Linked DNA regions of Homo sapiens. The protein of the gene in region 1 purifies or fractionates together with the protein of each later gene. This does not show direct contact. Each region holds a gene or a part of one and is shown on either strand. Other genes may lie near its edges. The genes, in order: TBL1X, USP44 and CACYBP.

Evidence for each region.
Region 2: the proteins of TBL1X (region 1) and USP44 purify together in Homo sapiens (affinity purification with mass spectrometry; 2 studies listed by BioGRID, with this or other methods). This does not show direct contact.
Region 3: the proteins of TBL1X (region 1) and CACYBP purify together in Homo sapiens (affinity purification with western blotting; 2 studies listed by BioGRID, with this or other methods). This does not show direct contact.

What each region holds. Positions count from the first base shown.
Region 1 is NC_000023.11:9,713,055-9,720,178, reverse strand, and holds the end of TBL1X (F-box-like/WD repeat-containing protein TBL1X), read right to left. Parts: intron 5,278-7,124; coding exon 5,176-5,277; intron 3,960-5,175; coding exon 3,933-3,959; 3' UTR 439-3,932; downstream 1-438. UniProt on the Homo sapiens protein: F-box-like protein involved in the recruitment of the ubiquitin/19S proteasome complex to nuclear receptor-regulated transcription units. Plays an essential role in transcription activation mediated by nuclear receptors.
Region 2 is NC_000012.12:95,548,445-95,556,403, forward strand, and holds the start of USP44 (ubiquitin carboxyl-terminal hydrolase 44), read right to left. Parts: upstream 3,033-7,959; 5' UTR 2,828-3,032; intron 1,910-2,827; exon of another isoform or gene 608-1,909; intron 359-607; exon of another isoform or gene 82-358; intron 1-81.
Region 3 is NC_000001.11:175,009,895-175,012,599, reverse strand, and holds the end of CACYBP (calcyclin-binding protein), read right to left. Parts: intron 2,678-2,705; coding exon 2,521-2,677; 3' UTR 573-2,520; downstream 1-572. UniProt on the Homo sapiens protein: May be involved in calcium-dependent ubiquitination and subsequent proteasomal degradation of target proteins. Probably serves as a molecular bridge in ubiquitin E3 complexes. Participates in the ubiquitin-mediated degradation of beta-catenin (CTNNB1).

The DNA.
Region 1 (7,124 bases):
GCAAATGTCAATAAATGTTTGCCACATGTTGGTTTGCACCATGCAGACGTCCATGTCCAAAGTCACCCCATCCTGTTAGGTTCTGCAAATTACTCGGGGGTAATTCGGGAACTCAAACTCCCGGTCAACCAATCCGCTGATGAGAGAACATTCATTTGCTTTGTCTTTCTCCAACAGCCAGCCTGAAATAAAGAATGAAAAGGAAACACACTAAAAAACATGATCCCTGGACAGAACCACCTTTCAGAACAGCAGGCGGCTGCTGTGACTGCCATGTCACTGCGTTCTGCTCCCAGCTCCCTATCTCACACAGCAATCCTAAACAGAGGCTCAAGGTACTTCCTTCTGGAGAAAATACAGAGCTCTGTCTTCAGTCATTCAGTCAACGTGGGCCCAAGAGTTCCAGAGCGAGAGGAAGAAAGCACACCCACCAAGTTCTCTAATATCAAAATAGAGCAATTTATTCAAGACACTGAATATGATCTGTTGATTCTCTCTTGAAACAAATGAGCTACAACACACAAGGTGATTTTTTTTTTTTTCTTCAAAGAGCGTGAGGGTGAGTACAGGTGGCGGGGGGAATGAAAAGGCGGTCGCTGTCATCTGAACAGAATCGGAAAAATGCCAATAGAGAACATGTCTGGCTGTACGTCTGACACAGACAATAAAAACTGCACAAGCCAGAATGCAAAACTTCAGTGAGTGGCGGAAGGAACATTTCTGCATTTGACAAGAAACATAAGCTTTTTTTTTTTCTTTTTTTAAATGGCGGAACAAAAGGTTAAAAAACAGAAAAGCAACAAGAACAAAGCAGACCCTTACATTTGACAAAGTGCACTTCACTTGGCTCCATGATCTATTTCTTAGAAAGACTAAACAAAAGTCAAGTCCTACGGTGTCGCGAGGGGTCAGAGGGTTTCACCCTGTAACGTCCGGCCCTTTTGGTCCCCCTTGGGGCAGCATCCCTTTCCCAGGTGTGTGCTGGACCTGACTCTCGGTCACTGTGAACCCGACCAAACACTCTAGGAAGGTCTGTCATGCTATGTCTGCTTTCAAGGTCACGTTTGGTCACTAAGACTTAGGCATTCCTCACCATGTTTTAAGAGCTGTAAACAACGTTGAACAATAACATTCCACAGGCCATTTCTTGATTACAGGGATGACTCTACCAACATGCCAGCAGCAGAGAGGGTGAGTAGTGGTGTGCAAATGCTGGAGGCTCTGAAAACGGCTGTCCATGGTGTTGTCCCGCTGAGAACGGGGATGGATATGAAGGGTGCTAGCTGCATCTCGCGCTTGGTTTTGCTTGCGGCCGCAGGCTGGGGAAGCCAGGGATGGAGCCTGGGGTCCGAGGCCTCCCAGCCCAGGTTTCTACCTAACAATTCCGACATGGTTCACATTCATCAAGACTAAAGCCATCCCTCGGGAGAGACCCTGGCTACCGACATTCATGTGAAGATTGTCTAGTGAATTGCTTGCGACACATCCCACCATCGCCATCCCACAGTTGTTACTGGTTTGTCAAGCATAAGCCATGCCCTAACGACAGGCTGGCCTTTGACAGCAGATGTTCTACAGAGATGAGTGCATTTTTATTTGGGTGGGGTAGAGATGGTGTCTTTTGGACCCCAACAAACTGTACTCTAAACTTCACAGAGTCCTTGGGACGGGAAATCATCACCTCATCCAGGGACACTGGCTATCTTCAAAGATGGGTGCGGCGACTCCACATCACTGTGACCTTCTTTGCTAAGTGTTTCGGAAACAGAACACGAATAAAATACTCATCTCAGAACCAGAGCACTTTTTGGTCTTCTGGGACATGAATAATTCACATACCCAAGTGGAGGCCAATCAATGATCTGAGAATGATCAACGCACCCTGGCTTTTGCAGGTGGTCCTGGCACGTTCCAAGTTCCACAGAAGCCCTGACCCTTCCCCGATGGCTGGGTTTTGGCTCCGCAGATGAATGCCACCTTCACAATAACACCGTCTCACTGCTGGAACACACACCAGATTGCACCCTACCCACTGCTGGTGACCCAGCAGCCCCCACGGGCTGGGCCATCTTCCTCAGCCCTTCTGCCCACAGGAAAACCAATGGGAGAAGAGGCCCTTGTCCTTTGGCCTTTTCCCCCTTGCTAATGACAAAAATAAGTCCGTGTCGGGTTATGACAGCAAGCAGATGGAGGTCACCAGATTCACTGAAATGAAGCTCTTCTAGGAACACAAAGCCTTGTTTAATTTTTTAAAAACAGCAAAAAGATTATTTAAAAAAGATCTTTCTCCTAGTCTTCTGTGAGACAAAGAAATTATAAAGATGGCAGAAATTATTAGCGACGTTCTACCTCTATAATTCACGTTCAGGACTGAAAATCTTCCTTCTGCATTCATTTCTGTCAGCGTTAGACTAAGTGACATGCGGGCGCCTCTATGTCAGCTCTGCAAGGACTCGCCAAGCCTGCTCTTGGAGAAATGACCATCGGTCGTTATACGGTTGTGGGAAAGATGTAGCCAACACGCCTAATCCAGCCGAGCAGTCGGTTTCGACGGCTTCTGCAGTACCTTATGGTTCTGCCAATGCTCCCTTGAGGCCAGAGGGCGCGCGGCTCTTCGCTGCTTTCCTGCTGGCTGCCAAGGTGCATACACACCAAAAGATGCGAGGTTCTTCTTCCAGCCGGCATGGCGGGGACCTCCCTCACTGGCTGCAGAGCAATCTCGCTGCTGACCCCGAAGACTGACCCTTGTCCAGCCAGAGTTTTCCTGACCACCTTTCCTGAGGCTGAGGGGAAAGCCAGGGGCTCCCTCAGGCCCTGCCTGTGGCTTCTTCGGTTCTTTTTAAAACATGAATCACACAAAGCTCTCTATGTCTGATGGCCATTTTAAGATTTTAAAATTGTTTTAACATAAAAATATTATTTTTTTTTCCAAAAATACTCCAGGCTCTTTCTCTTATAAGTCATTTTTTTTTCTCCTGTAAAAAGCCCCCCTGCCCTGCCTTCTTACATAAAGCACTTACTACGCGCCAAAGTGCCCTTGAGACCTAAGATCTGAAGCAACTATGAGAAAGGTACAGAGGGAGAGAGAGAGAGAAAGAGAGCACGCCAGTGAGAAAGCGAGCGCGAGCGCGAGCGCAAGGGGAGGAGAGGGTGGGAGAGGGCGGAAGGGGGAAAGCTGTCCGTGGGAGATTGTGTCTTCATGTCCACGGGGCTGCATCTCTTGATGGTGCACTGAAAAAGCAGAGCTCACCAGACAGAGTGGAAAGGCAGGGGGAGGGGCAGGGAGCAACAGAAGGAAGAGACAACAAGCCCAAGACAGCTTCCATCTCAGACGGAAGGCCCCCAGAAGATAGAATTCCAGCCGACTGAAAAACCACCCAATGAACAAAGAAGATTCTAGAAAATAGAAAGTGTTGGGATTACAAAGTTGCGCGTTTCATCGGTACAAACTGGTCTTTGAACCTCCTTTGTGAGAGCAATTGTAGTGTCCAAATTGTTAGGGAAAACAAAAAAAAAAAATCCCAAGGAGGAGGGTTTTTCCCCCTTCCCTGTTTGGTTTATCACAGCATTTTGCTTTTTTTTTGGCACAGCTTTTTACGTTTCTTTCCATTCAGCCATCACAGAGCCTGTTCCGGGTGGAAACCAATCCACACGCCTCGAGCTGGTGACTTCCTCCTTCCCAGGCTGAATGTCCTCAGTGGAAACCATTCTATCCCCGTTTGATATGATTTGCTTCTGTTTTTGCTTGCCTTTTAAAAACTTCTTGATGAAGATTACGAAAACATATAGACTCCTGCGGCCAGAGACGAGTTGGTTTCAGAGTACACTCTAACGCAAGTCAAGTTCCTACAGTTTTGGAGAATAGAGCTGCAACCCTACACATTCACGGCTGGTCATTAGAATTCTTTTCTTTTTTCGATAATATTTTGTGGTTACTTCCGCAGATCCAAAACACACACCTGGAAGGAAAGATAAAGCACCTGTCATCTTGAGAGACAATACAAAGATGCCTTTAGAGTGAGAAGTCGGCAAGCTACGGCCCCCACGCCCAATCTAGCCCTCCACCGATGTTTGTCAGTAAAGTTTATTGGAACATCGTCATGAAGGGTCAGAGAAGCTCTCATAACAGACTGGCATCTGGACATCGGACCGAGCAAACTGAAGCAAACAGCACAGAGCAGAAAGGCCAGGTTAAGGGTAATGATAGGAATTAACAGAGTGGCAGAGGTCCCAGAAGGGACACCTGCAATCGTGGGGCAGATGACAATACGAGCCCAAGTACACAGCCTCTGACAACATTTGGGGACTACTCTGACCCTTGGCCGTTCAGCCAGAACGGCCGCTTGCCCCAGAGGTCAGGGCAACCTCAAGTCCAGGGGAAAATAAGAAATCCAGATGCCCCATGGGAAGAGAAGAGGGCCCAGGAGACCTGCAGGATGGCCACCAGAGGCCCGGGCTTCTCAGCCACAGCATGGGTGACAATTGTGGCCACCCTGTGCACAGTAGGAGGTTTAGCAGCATCCTCATCTAAGCACAGTCACGCGTCACATAATGACGTTTCCAGCAACAACGCACCGCACAGACCGCAGTGGTCCTGTAAGATTATAACCATATATCTGCTGAACCTTTTCTATGTTTAGATAGATCCGGACGCACAAATGCTTACCATTGTGTTCTGGTTGCCTACAGGAATCAGTATGGTCACCCGCTGTCCAGGTTTGTAGCCTGGGAGCAATAGGCTGTACCACACAGCCTCGGTGTGGGACAGGTATTATCATCTAGGTTTGTGTCAGTCACTCTATGATGTTCAGACAAAGATAAAAGTGCCTAATGACACATTTCCCAAAACGTTCCCGTCATTAAGCGACACATGACTGTAGTGACAACCTAAAATGGCTCCAGATATTGTCTAATGTCCTTAGAGGTGCAGAATCACCCTGGTTGAGAACCACCAATTTGACTGAGAAAATGTTGACTAGAAGGACACTCTGGAAGGGACAAGGAGAAGGCCATTCCCAGATGTGGTACCAACTCCGATGGGATCCAGCCCAGAAGCTTCCTTTGGCACTGGGCTAGGCCCTTCAGGACACGAATGCTGCACACGCCCTGGAAGCTCACTTAGGCATCAGCTGCCCCCAACACCCCACTCCCCAGCAAACCAGAGGTGTTGCTTACAGAGCCGTCGGACGCGCTGGCACCCACTTTGTCTCCTCGGGCGTTCCAGCACACCTCGAAGATGCCGCCAGTGCCTCGGTAGCTGTGGACAAGATTTCCACTCTGCAAAGCAAAGCAGCTGTCACTTACAACGCAAGGGGCGCCTGCGACAGATGCAGGTGTGGAATGTGCGCTCCTCCGGCCCTGACGTTTCGTCATGAACATTTTCAAGCATGGTGAAATTTAAGGGTTTTCAGTAAGGACTCTGGGGGCCATGGAGATGTGCCTCTAGGACTTCCCACCACGAGGAGTGAACCTGATTACTTATGCCTGCGGAATCTGCCACATTTGCGTGGATTCTGAGGCTGCACCCAGCTGAGGACTGATGGAGGCGGGAGACCATGGCAGTCACCTGCTGAGACTCAGACTCATCTGGTGGGTAAGTGGCTCATGGACTCTCCATCAGCACGACCAAAACTTTCTACAGACCTGTAAGGGCCATCCCTGACTCTTCCTACCCTTCCCGTCTCCTTCCCAGGGTCAGACTGGCCTTATGGTCTGAATTCTCCCTTCCCCCTACCTTCCTCCCTGTTTCCATCACAGCTCTTTCCCCCAATAAATCTCTCGCCCATCTAATCCTGTTCTGGTGTCTGTTCTTTGGAGGACCTGAATGAATACAACATAATGAATACACCCACCCCAGTAGCAATTAAATTGACTGTAATTCATGATTAAATGTAATAATATGCCATGACATTAAAATGTACGTATTTTTGGACATTTGAAAGAAGAAATGCATAATATACATGTAATGGAAAACACCACAGACCATTGGTTTCCGGTTTAAAACAGCATTAACTTGACAAATCTAAGAGGTAGGGGAAGTTGAGGCCTTTGAAAGAGTTGAATAAGGCCAGGCGAGGTGGCTCACCCTGTAATCCCAGCACTTTGGGAGGCCGAGGCGGGAGGACGGATTGAGCCCAAGAGTTCAAGACTAGCCTGGGCAACACAGTGAGACTTCGTCTCTACAAAAATTAATTTTAAAAAATAAAAAAGAGAGAAAGAGTCGAATAAGCCTTCACTCATGATTCACTATGGTGACAGGCAGGAGAAATCTGAACACCGAGACCAGGAGGGCTGTCCCAAATCCTCTGCTCAATTGGGCCCCTTAAAGGGTGGTGTTCCATGAACTGAGAAAGGTGTGTGTCGGCAGTATTACAGATAAGTATTTTTATACTTGGAGAAAGATTAAAGTGGGCTTTAAGATTTCTCTTAAGAAAATTCCTAAGGATTTCTTGGCCGGGCGCGGTGGCTCATGCCTGTAATCCCAGCACTTTGGGAGGCCGAGGTGGGTAGATTGCCTGGGGTCAGGAGTTCAACACCAGCCTGGCCAACATGGTGAGACCCCGTTTGTACTAAAAATACAAAAGTTAGCCGGCTGTGGTGGTGCGCACCTGTAATCCCAGCTACTCGGGAGGCTGAGGCAGGAGAATCGCTCAAACCCGGGAGGCAGAGGTCGCAGTGGGCCGAGATGGCATCACTGTACTCCAGCCTGGGTGACGAGAGTGAAACTCCGATCCAAAAAAAAAAAAAAAAAAGAAAAGTCCTAAGGATTTCTTTGATTTATAAAAAAGGGTTGAAACAGTTCAGTGAGTTCCTGACAACAGGCTGTACCTAACTGATCATGTCATTGTTTTGATAATTGATGTGTTCTTTTTACAAATCCACCCATTACTATTTCTAGCGAGGATTTCAGGAACGGAGACTCTTGGACACTAGTGCTGAGATGCGTGCTTCCCGGAGAGCTATCTAGGGCTGTGGGGCTGGGCTTGGCGTCGGGTTGGCTCTACGCAGGGTCCACCATTTCCCTTCCTTCCCTGAGAGGATGTGGTTCACATGAGGTCCCTGGGAAGCCTGTGATCTCAGTGGACCCCTTGCCAGTGAACAGGGCTCATCACCATTGAGTCCAC
Region 2 (7,959 bases), on another chromosome or scaffold:
CAGCCCGCTGCGCCTTGCCGCAGCATCTCCGGGCACTCTGAGGCTGCCGCCGGGACAGGGTCGGAGCGCCGCAGAACCCACCGAAACTTCCCAGGGGGGCAATTCAAAATTCGCCGGACGCGTCGCCGCCGCGCGCCCCTCGGCTCATTCCCTTCCGCGCGCCCGCAGCCCCAGGCTCTCCCTCTCTCAGGACCCCCCAGCGCCCTGCGCGGCGAGAATAGGCCCCCAGGTGCCTCCCGGCCCCGGGGGCTGCCGTCGCACGTCCGCTCCCGCAGGGGTCCTCACTCCGCCAATCGCCGCGGCCGCGCGCCCTCGCGCACACTCACCAGCCCGAGCCGGGGCGGCCATCTTAGCGCTCACCCCGGCCCCCCGCCCCCCGGTTCGGCGGCCGCGACGACCCGGTGCGGCGGCTACGACAGCCGTGACGCGCAGCAGGCCCCGCCCCCTCCCACAGCCCCACCCCTGCGCCGGCTCTTCGCGGGCACCGAGAACCTGCCGGTGGCCGCCTTCCGCGCCTCGTGGGGGGGTCGGGGCCACGGACGGTCCCCGGCGCCGCAAGTGGGTCTGCGCGAACAACAAGCACTGCCTCCCCGGGCGGGCTTCGCACCTGTAGTGCCGTCGGGACACGGGAGGGTAAACCCAGCGTGTCCTGTGTGCCTGTGAGCCGCAGAATCATCCACGGACGTCGTTAGTCCTTCCTGGAATTTCTGCGATTTACACAACGTCGAATTGTTTGGCAGAAACGCGTGGCAAACTCCGTTATCTTTAAAACCTTCCCCAATTCACTGGCATAGAAATTCTTAAAGAAAACGTTTCCTTCTTGAAGCGACCCCTGGGTGTAACTTCAGTGGCGATGACGGCTGTGAATTGGGTTTTTTCGCACCGCAGAAGGGCGAGAGAGGTTCCAGAACGGGCACAGGAAGGGAACCGCTATCTAGAACTGCCTAACCCGAAATTGCCCATTTAAATAATGAAGTACATACCGAAAAGGAAAAGGAGGGGAAATCTGGAAAACAGGAAAGTCAAGGCTAAGGTACCTGAAAATTAACCCATTAATATTTATTGGATTCTTTGTGTTCAACTCTGAGCCAGATTGTTGTTTTTAACTGAACCTATACTCAATGACAAAGCAGTTCTACTTTGGCCACCCTGTGGAGTGTACTGAAAATTTAAAAACTCTCCAAGGAGAGCTTAAAAAGAAGACAAACATGCAAAGTTAACAATACATCAATGCAGTGCAAAATCTTGCAATATGTAAGACAAGGTATAAAATTGTTCCTATCTTTTCATCATCAGTTTTATTCTGGGGAGTATGTTTCAGTGGTATGACCTGAATAAAGAAATGAGTGCACAAAGGTATTCACAGCATATTATCCAAACACCGTAAAAGGCAAGAAGGAGCGGCACAGGATTCTAACTAACAGGAAATGGCTAATTAAGGTCTGACATAGAGGCCGGGCGCAGTGGCTCACGCCTGTAATCACAGCACTTTGGGAGGCCAAGGCGGGTGGATCACCTGAGGTCAGGAGTTCGAGAGCAGCCTGGCCAACATAGTGAAACCCTGTCTCTACTAAAAATACAAAAATTATCCGGGCCTGGTGGCGGGCACCTGTAATCCCAGCTACTCGGTAGGCTGAGACAGGACAATCGCTTGAACCCAGGAGGCGGAGGTTGTGGTGAGCCTAGATCCACAATTGCACTCAAGCCTGGGCAGCAACAAGAGCGAAACTCCGTCTCAGAAAAAAAAAAAAAAAAAAAAAATCTGATATAACACAGGAAGTTCTTATGTTAACAAAATAGATACAAAATAGCAACAATGTCTAATCAATTCATGTTTGAAAAAAATACCAAATATGTACATTAAGGTTACAACTGCATAAAATGTAGTCATGCAAATAAAGATTAAAGGGATGAATTTGCATAGTTTAATACTCATTTTGTTCTTTTTTCTATATATTTAAGTGCATAATAATTCTGATTCAATAATGACCCCAGTGCACTTCTCCCACTCAAAACATCTAACCTCTATGTTGTACTTTTGCCCACCACCTGAATTTCTCAAATGCATTAAAAGCATTACATGAGGGCATCTCTTAAGATGAAATATTTAAAATTTAAGTATTTCTGGCATGCAATATGGTTTTTCCTGTAATTCCTTGAAAGCAAAATATTAATAATAGAAAAATCAAAACTCTTGCTTTCCTATTATAATGCCATAAAACCATTCTGGAAGGTCGTTTGGGAGATAGGAAGAGTCTTAGTTGCCTCCCTCTGATCTAGTAATTGGGCGGGGTCTTTTAAGGACTAAAATGATGTGAATAAATGAAGAGAAAAAGTGAAATGGGAAGAAAAGCAAAGGCAAGCTGTGTAAGGCATAGGTGGAGAGTGCTGAATAGTGTCTTCAATAAAATGCCTTAATACAATGATGTAAGCTAGGAAGAGGTGCGGAGTGGGAAGGGAAGAGGCTGGAGACAAATTCTCATTACTAGTGTTAGTAATTAAAGAGCAGATGTTTGTAGTTTAGCTTTTTCTTCATACTTATTACTACTTATTCAACTTTGAAATTTCCTCAGCTACCATTTTATTCATGATCTTCACTATCTAGGCCTAAATTATAGCATGCTCTAGCTCATTTCCTGAGCTCCAGAACCTCTCTATTGCAATTTTATTTTTACATAGCAATCATAGTCATTCTTCTCCTTAAATTTTCCTATTTGTTTTTTAACCCGTCTCATCGAATCTAAGCTTTTTACTGTAACATTAAAAAAAAGAAAAGAAAAAAGCCTCCTTCCCTGCCCACCTTCATCAATGATGTCCCCAAACTTACCTATTAAAACCTCAAAATCAGTCTTTCCCCAGGTCGGCCTTTGGATAACTCAGAGGTCAGTCCCTGCAGGATCGCCCAGTTTCCATCAGGGCAAATGCTGATCTCCTAAGTGAAAAGTCCTGGCGGCTGCCTCCAGTGCCCCCCTGCAAATCATTACAAATCAACCTCTTTCAGGTTTGGCTTAAACTCTCACCTCCTGGAAACTGCTTTCCTGAAGTCACAAACCGGGCGTGCAGATCCCCATCCCCCACCCCCAGCAGTGCATTATTATGCAGTCACTGCTTTTGTTCCGAGTTCTGAGCCTGCTTCTATTTGCATCGTAACCTCTTTGGGGGCCGGGACTGTGCACTTGCTCCCTTTCTATACCTCTCCACAGTTCCTAGTACCGGCCAAAAACACTGCTGAAATGCCTAATGAATCAACCAGAAGTTCCTTAGCATAATATAGGAGCGTGGAAGTGATGTTTAGGGGGGCTTCCCTTGCTTCCCTGATCCCCAGATGGAGAGAAATGGCAATTTGCCCTTCCAAGGTAAGCAGTTTCCTAAACCAGATAAAATTTTAACGATTCTGAAACCTAATGGATGTGTAACTACTCAATTCTGAGTTACTACACAAACAGTTTTGCCCTTTGTATCCTGAGAGAAAAGTACGAATGAATTAAAAGAAGACAAAACATTGTAAATTTCATAAACCTCAGAGTGGCTTTTTATGCTTTATGTCGATTTTTAGAATTTCCTAGTCCAGTCTTTCATGAATCGAAGAATATTTCAGGAATCATAATTGCAGACTAAAGAATTTATGAGCTTGTGAAATTTTAGGAATCACTTTTAAGACTTTTCAGAGTTTTACAGACAATGCTCTTACCTAATAACTAATATTCGCTTAACATTTTTTTCAACACCTAAATGCCTGGCACCATGCTAAGCATTGAGATATTCATAGCATTCATTTCAATGGTTATGAGGAGATGAAGGATTGAGCAGAGGAAGTGGGTAAAGAAACGCTAAATAACTCAGCCATAAACTTTTGATTAAGGTGTAGCAACACACTTCAGTTGAACTTTTTAAATGAGAGGAACCCAAACGACCTTAAATTTCTGGCAAATATGAAAGAAAGGAGTTGAGAAAAAAGGAGTATGGAAAAAAGAGCAGCAGATGTAAGCTATGGCCTTAGTGGAGGAAAGTGAGTAGAAGGGGCTTTAGAATTCGCCTTTTTTCTTTAATTCTAAGAATGAGGTTGGTAGCAGGTAAGGAAGGTAAATGCCAGCTGAGTAGATGGTACCAAAGTTGATTTGTTTTTAAAAGACCATTGTTTATTTGGTGGTCTGTCAGGGAAACTTGTACCTTGCAGGTGAATTTCCAACATAGGCCTACTGGAAACTGAAACCCTGAGCCCCAGGGTTTAGGTATAAATGGAAGCAAAATTGTGAAGTGAGTCCATTTCTCCCCCTTTTTAAACATAAACATCCACTCCACCTCCACCCTATACTCAGTTTTTCTTTTCTTTTCTTTTCTTTTTTTTTTTTTTTTTGAGACAGAGTCTCGCTCTGTCACCCAGGTTGGAGTGCCGTGGCGTGATCTCGGCTCACTGCAACCTCCGCCTCCCGGGTTCAAGCAGTTCCCCTGCCTCAGCCTCCTGAGTACCTGGGATTACAGGTATGCACCACCACGCCTGGTTAATTTTTGTATTTTTAGTAGAGACGGGGTTTCACCATGTTGGTCAGGCTGGTCTCCAACTCCTGACCTCGTGATCTGCCCGCCTCGGCCTCCCCAGGTGCTGGGATTACAGGCGTGAGCCACCACGCCTGGCCCACTCTATACTCACTTTTACAGGGATCCTCAGGATGCTGTGTCCAGGGCTTTACTGCAGTCTGTCTCTCTTCCTTCCCATCAAAACTCTTCCCATTTTGTTCAGGACAGGTACACCAACCTTTCATTCTCTCTTTTTATTTATTTTTAAAATGGAGACAGGGTTTTGTCACCAGGCTGGAGTGCAGTAGCGTGATCATGGCTCACTGCAGCCTTGACCTCTCAGGCTCAAGCAATCTTCCCACCTCAGCTTCCTGTGTAACTGGGACCACAGGCATGCGACACAACTTCTGCTAATTGATTTTTTGTAGAGATGTGGGGGTGGAGGGGGGTTCTCCCTATGCTACCCAGGCTGGTCTCAAACTCCTGGCCTCAAGCAATCCTTGTGCCCCGGCCTCCCAAAGTGCTGGGGTTACGAGCATGAGCCACCATGCCTGGCCCCAACCTGTCATTATCTAAGGAGCTCAGTTATGAAGTAAAGTTATCTACTTTGTATTATTAGTGTTTAGTATTTTTTTTTCCATTTCTCTCTCAGACTGTTCTACCTCCTGTAGACACCCAGAGTTTGGAATTTCTAAAATGACATTTTAAACATTGTGACAGATCAGTGGGATAGATATTTTGCTAAGCCAAGGTACTTCCTTTCCAAGGATAAGCTATGGGAGGTGATGACAGCAGAATACACACACACACACACACACACAATACACGCAGACACACATATATATACTCATATGCACATATATAATTAGAACTCATTTAGCTATAATAACAATTTGTCCATCTAGTTATTTGCAATCCTTTCAGGATTTTTAAAATTTCTATCTCATTTGTAGAGTTTGGAAAATAGTATCTGTCCTATCTTCTTCACAATAATGTTTTAAGGACCAAATGAGGTTTTGTCCATGGAACCTGCCTAAACTGTAAGGAGAAAAGTCAGTGTGTTTATCATTATTTCTCTCTTAGGTTTACTATTACCCTGTAAAGTTCTTTGAAGTCAGAAACAGACTTTTGTTCATATTTACAACCCCTATAGCAATTAATACAGAACCTCACTCAGGATAGATAAGCAGTATTCCCTTAAATCAAGTTTTACTTCTGTACTAAAGTAATAGTCAATTCAAGGACAAGTGCTATAAAGGTTAAAATTAATTCTATTACTCTGAGAAACATGGCAATACTATTTTAGTCTTCCTCTCTCATAGTAGGGAGGGAAAGGATCTGGAAAGGCAGAGGGAGAGAGGGGGAGAAAAGAAAAGGCACTACAGGTGGAAATTTCAACTCTTAAAGTTTTAGTAAACCATGCCAAAAAGATACTAGTAACTTTTCATGAGGAAGAGATTATTGGGGTACCCAAGTTTTGTTTTTATACTCTATACATGTTTTTAAACCCATTTCTTTTTTTTAAAAAAAAATAATAGAATGAGGAAAGTGTAGATGGATAACTGTAGCTATTTGTATAATTATTTACATCTTGCCAAACCATTTGGAAATTGAAATCCTGCAGTGTCGCTCCTGGGTTGTAAAAGATAAGAAAAGTAAATAGAAGGCCCCCTTAATACAACGTGATATTGCATCATTTAAAAGAAACCACAAACTGTCTATTCAGGATGTATGCATACAATAAAAAGAGCTAACAATTCTTCATGTGTAAGAGCTAGGATGATCAACCTGCTTTTCTCTGCCATCTTAAGGTTGCTTCTTTTTAGGCCAAGGTACCTCGTGGTAGCAATCATTGATTTAGTCATCTGTAAATAGTGTTTGTAAGCCTCTTTTCCTTAGCTAACCAGTGATTAACTCCTAGAAAAACCACATTTTTTTTCCTGCCACCCAGGAGTGCAGTGGCGTGATCTCAGCTCACTGCAGCCTTGACCTACCAGGCTCAAGCAATCCTCACACCTGTGCCTCCCAAGTAGCTGGGACTACAGGCACATGCCACTACACCCAGCTAATTTTTGTATTTTTTGTAGAGATGGGGTTTCACTATGTTGTCCAGGCTGGTCTTGGACTCTTGAGCTCAAATGATCCACCCACCTGGACTTCCCAAAGTGCTGGGATTACAGGTGTGAGCCACTGCACCCAGCCTTGAAAACCACATTTCTGAGGGAAACTCTTTGGGGGAAGGGAGGTTGTGTGTAAGTTAGATAGTCCCTATCTATTTCATTTTATTTTTGGTTTTGAAATTAGTGTTTAAAGAATTAAGCATAATGAATACTTGATATTAATTTCTTGGATGTTTTTTGAGATGGAGTCTCACTCTTGTCACCCAGGCTGGAGTGCAATGACACAATCTCGGCTCACTGCAACCTTCGCCTCCTGGGTTCACGTGATTCTCCTGCCTCAGCCTCCTGAGTAGCTGAGATTACAGGCACCTGCCACCACACCCGGCTAATTTTTTTATTTTTAGTAGAGACGGGGTTTCACCATGTTGGCCAGACTGGTCGCAAACTCCTGACCTCAGGTGATTCACCCGCCTCGGCCTCCCAAAGTGCTGGAATTATAGGTGTGAGCCACTGTGTCTGGTCCTTGGATTTTTTTAAATGTCCTAAATATGCGGCTCCTAATCTTTAGAAAAATAATGAAGGATGAGCCAAGCATTGTAGGGGGGGGAAAAAAAGCTTGAAATATGACATGTAATGGGATGTTTTTCACAAGTATAAAGTTTTATTTTGTCTGTTTGGATGAAAACTCCAAAATGCCACAGGAATGATCACAGAAGGAAATTTATATAAATTTACCATTAAATGCCTATGAAATAATCTCTTCTTAAAAATCAATGGTAGTAATAAAGGATGACTTAAACATTTATTTGCTTATGCCCATAACATTGTATTAAATTTAAGATAAAAGAGCCGGGTGCAGTGGCTCACGCCTGTAATCCCAGCACTTTGGGAGGCTGAGGAAGGTGGATCACCTGAGGTCAGGAGTTCCAGACAAGCCTGGCCAACCTGGCGAAACACCGTCTCTACTAAAAATACAAAAATTAGCTGGGTGTGGTGGTGGGTGCTTGTAATCCCAGCTACTCGGAAGGCTGAGACAGGAAAATCACTTGAACCTGGGAGGCAGAGGTTGCAGTGAGCCGAGATCATGCTACTGTACTCCAGCCTGGGCGACAAGAGCAAAACTCTGTCTCAAAAAAAAAAAAAATTTTTTTAAGACAAAAATGTGGTCTTATCATTAGTCACAAAATTAAACTGTGTAAGACAATTATAATTCTGACTAGCCTCATAGTGAATAATTTTCCCCTTATTGTTTTGTTAAATATCAGTCTACAGGTAATTAAGACTAGACTTATTCCTACAAGAGAACCTACGCAGTAGGCCT
Region 3 (2,705 bases), on another chromosome or scaffold:
TTCTAAAGTCAAAACTCTAGAAAAAGTTAAATTCACAGAATAGCTTCCATCCTCATCTCCTTCCTTCCCCTGCTAACAATTTTTATTAGCTTTGGGTTTACTCGTTTCTTTTTGAAACATAAGCAAATACACCTATGTGCATACATTCACATTTCTCACCCTTTCTTACACAAATGTAGTGGGTATACCATAAATGTTCTGCACTTTGCTTTTCCACTTACTCTATCCTGGAGACCATTTTACGTTATATAGAACTCTTCATTGTTTTGTGACTTAAGTACTCCCTCATGTGGATGCACCATAATACATTCCTGTTAAATAGACACGAGTATTTTTAATCTTTTGCATATAGCATTCCAAATTTTTCTAAATGTACCTTTCAGAGCCCAGAAAGAAGTTAAAATTCTGGGTCAAAGGATAAATGAATATGTCATTCTGATGGTTATTACCAAATACTCTTTCTGAGACAAGAGTCTTACTCTGTCACCCAGGCTGGAGTGCAGTGGCACAATCTCAGCTCACTGCAACCTCTGCCTCCCGGGTTCCAGTGATTCTCGTCCCTCGGCTTCCCAGGTTCAAGTGATTCTTGTCCTTCAGTCTCCCGAGTAGCTGGAGTTACAGGCATCTGCCACCATGCCCAGCTAGTTTTTTTTATTTTCAGTAGAGACAGGGTTTCACCATGTTGGCCAGATGGTCTTGAACTCCTGACCTCAAGTGATCCGCCCACCTTGGCCTCCCAAGGTGTTGGGATTACAGGTGTGAGCCACTGCACCTGCCCAAATATTCTTGTTAACCAAAGTTTAACTTTTGCATTCCATTCCCATATATGTGTCCTTATTTCTCCACAGCCTCAACTCAATACAGTTGTTTTTATACTTCTTTTTCAAGTGAAAGGTAAAAACACTGGTTTATTCTCTTCTGAACAAGGTGAGCATCTTTACATGTTAAAGGTCATTTACATTTCTTTTTGTATGAAGTATTCTTAATTATTGGAATCCTGTCAATACATTGTTTGCCTTGGGTTATGGTGGGGTTTTTCTTGTCCTATAAACATTTTTATGTAGTTAAAATTGATCAATAGTTTTATTTATTTCTTCTAGGTTTTAAGTCACATATAATGTCGTTTTCCTCCATTTTCTTCTAGTATTTGTATGCTTTACTTTTTACAATTAGATCGTCAGGCGGCTTGGAATATATCTATATGCCTATTTTCAGTTATCTTAGTATCATTAAAAACCCATCTTTACCCCACTTTTACCATATTCTGTAACTTTCATATGCATTGTGTCTGCTATTCTGTTCATGTGTCAACCCCAATTACAGAGGCATAATGTGTTTCAGTATTTACTTATAGCTATCCTATACATAAACTGTTTCTGTATTTTAAATCCTACCACTTCTTCCAAATTCCCATATTAATTGTAGCTTTAGTTTAGTTTACCCTTCTGGATTTTTCCTGTGTGTCTAACGGCTTTTTTTTTTTTTTTTTTTTTAATGAGACAGGTTCTCAATCTGTTACCCAAGCTGCAGTACAGTGGCATCATCATAGCTCACTGCAGCCTTAAACTCCTGGGCTGAAGTGATCCTCCAGCCTTAGTAGCTGGGATTACGGGCGCCAGCCTTCATGCCTGGCTTCAATTGCTTTCTCTGATCTAACTGTGTTGGCTAATACCTCCAGGAAAATAAAGTAATGGAGATCACAGGCACTGGTCCTGACTTCAGGGGGAATAGGAGTAATTCCTACTAAAAGCCTGATTTTTCTGACATACTCCTAGACAAATAAATCATAAAACTGTTCTAATGAAGAAAAACTTAACTTTATTGAGCATAGGAATAGACGGGCTTTCAAATTATTTTTTGCTTTATGGTTATTACTTTTATAAACCATCTGATCCACGGCAAAACTAACTGGTACCATACAAAGATATGTCTATTATTGTCATGTTTAGATTTTCTATTCCACATTCATTGACAAATATATTTAAATCTAGATAGAAACACCTGTGATTGAATTAGTGCATGGTAATGCATGGCATATACATTGCTTAAGGTGGTAATAAGGGGTCAGATGCTCTACAGCAACCTTCAAGCACAGGCACCGATTTGCATTTTATGCAAAACTTCAGGTTTTACTCAATTTTTACACTGGTGGAAGCTGATGTCAGTAACTTAAAAGGCAAGCAAATACTTTTCCAATTCTTAGCTGAACAAAAAATACACACAATGTAGCGTTTTTATTGGGCAAGACTTGCTTTTTATATTTCACGTGAGAATGCAATATAACCCTTCCTTGAACAAAATGACCAGGGTACTAATAAAACCATCTTTGCAGGAGTGTTTAATAAGCATATTTTATTTAAATAAATCCTCCAGTAGGAAATGGAGAATTCATTGCCTTTACTTAGAAGGCTATGTAAATAGCTATCTGTCAAATTTATATATGCAGCTCACCAATATTCCCTTACTGGAAACATCAGTATTTCCACATCACATCACAGTTCCCAAAACGACTTTAAAGTCTCAAAATTCCGTGTCTCCTTTGGCTTGCTTCTCTCTTGATTCCACCCAGGCTTTATTAATGGTTCGCTTCATATCATCGTCTCCATCTTCATAAATTTTCTTTAGAACATTCATCAATCCCTCACTAGGATCTGTTTCAGTGTCATAGGAGGGCTTCCTTTAAAAAGAAAACATATACAACAATG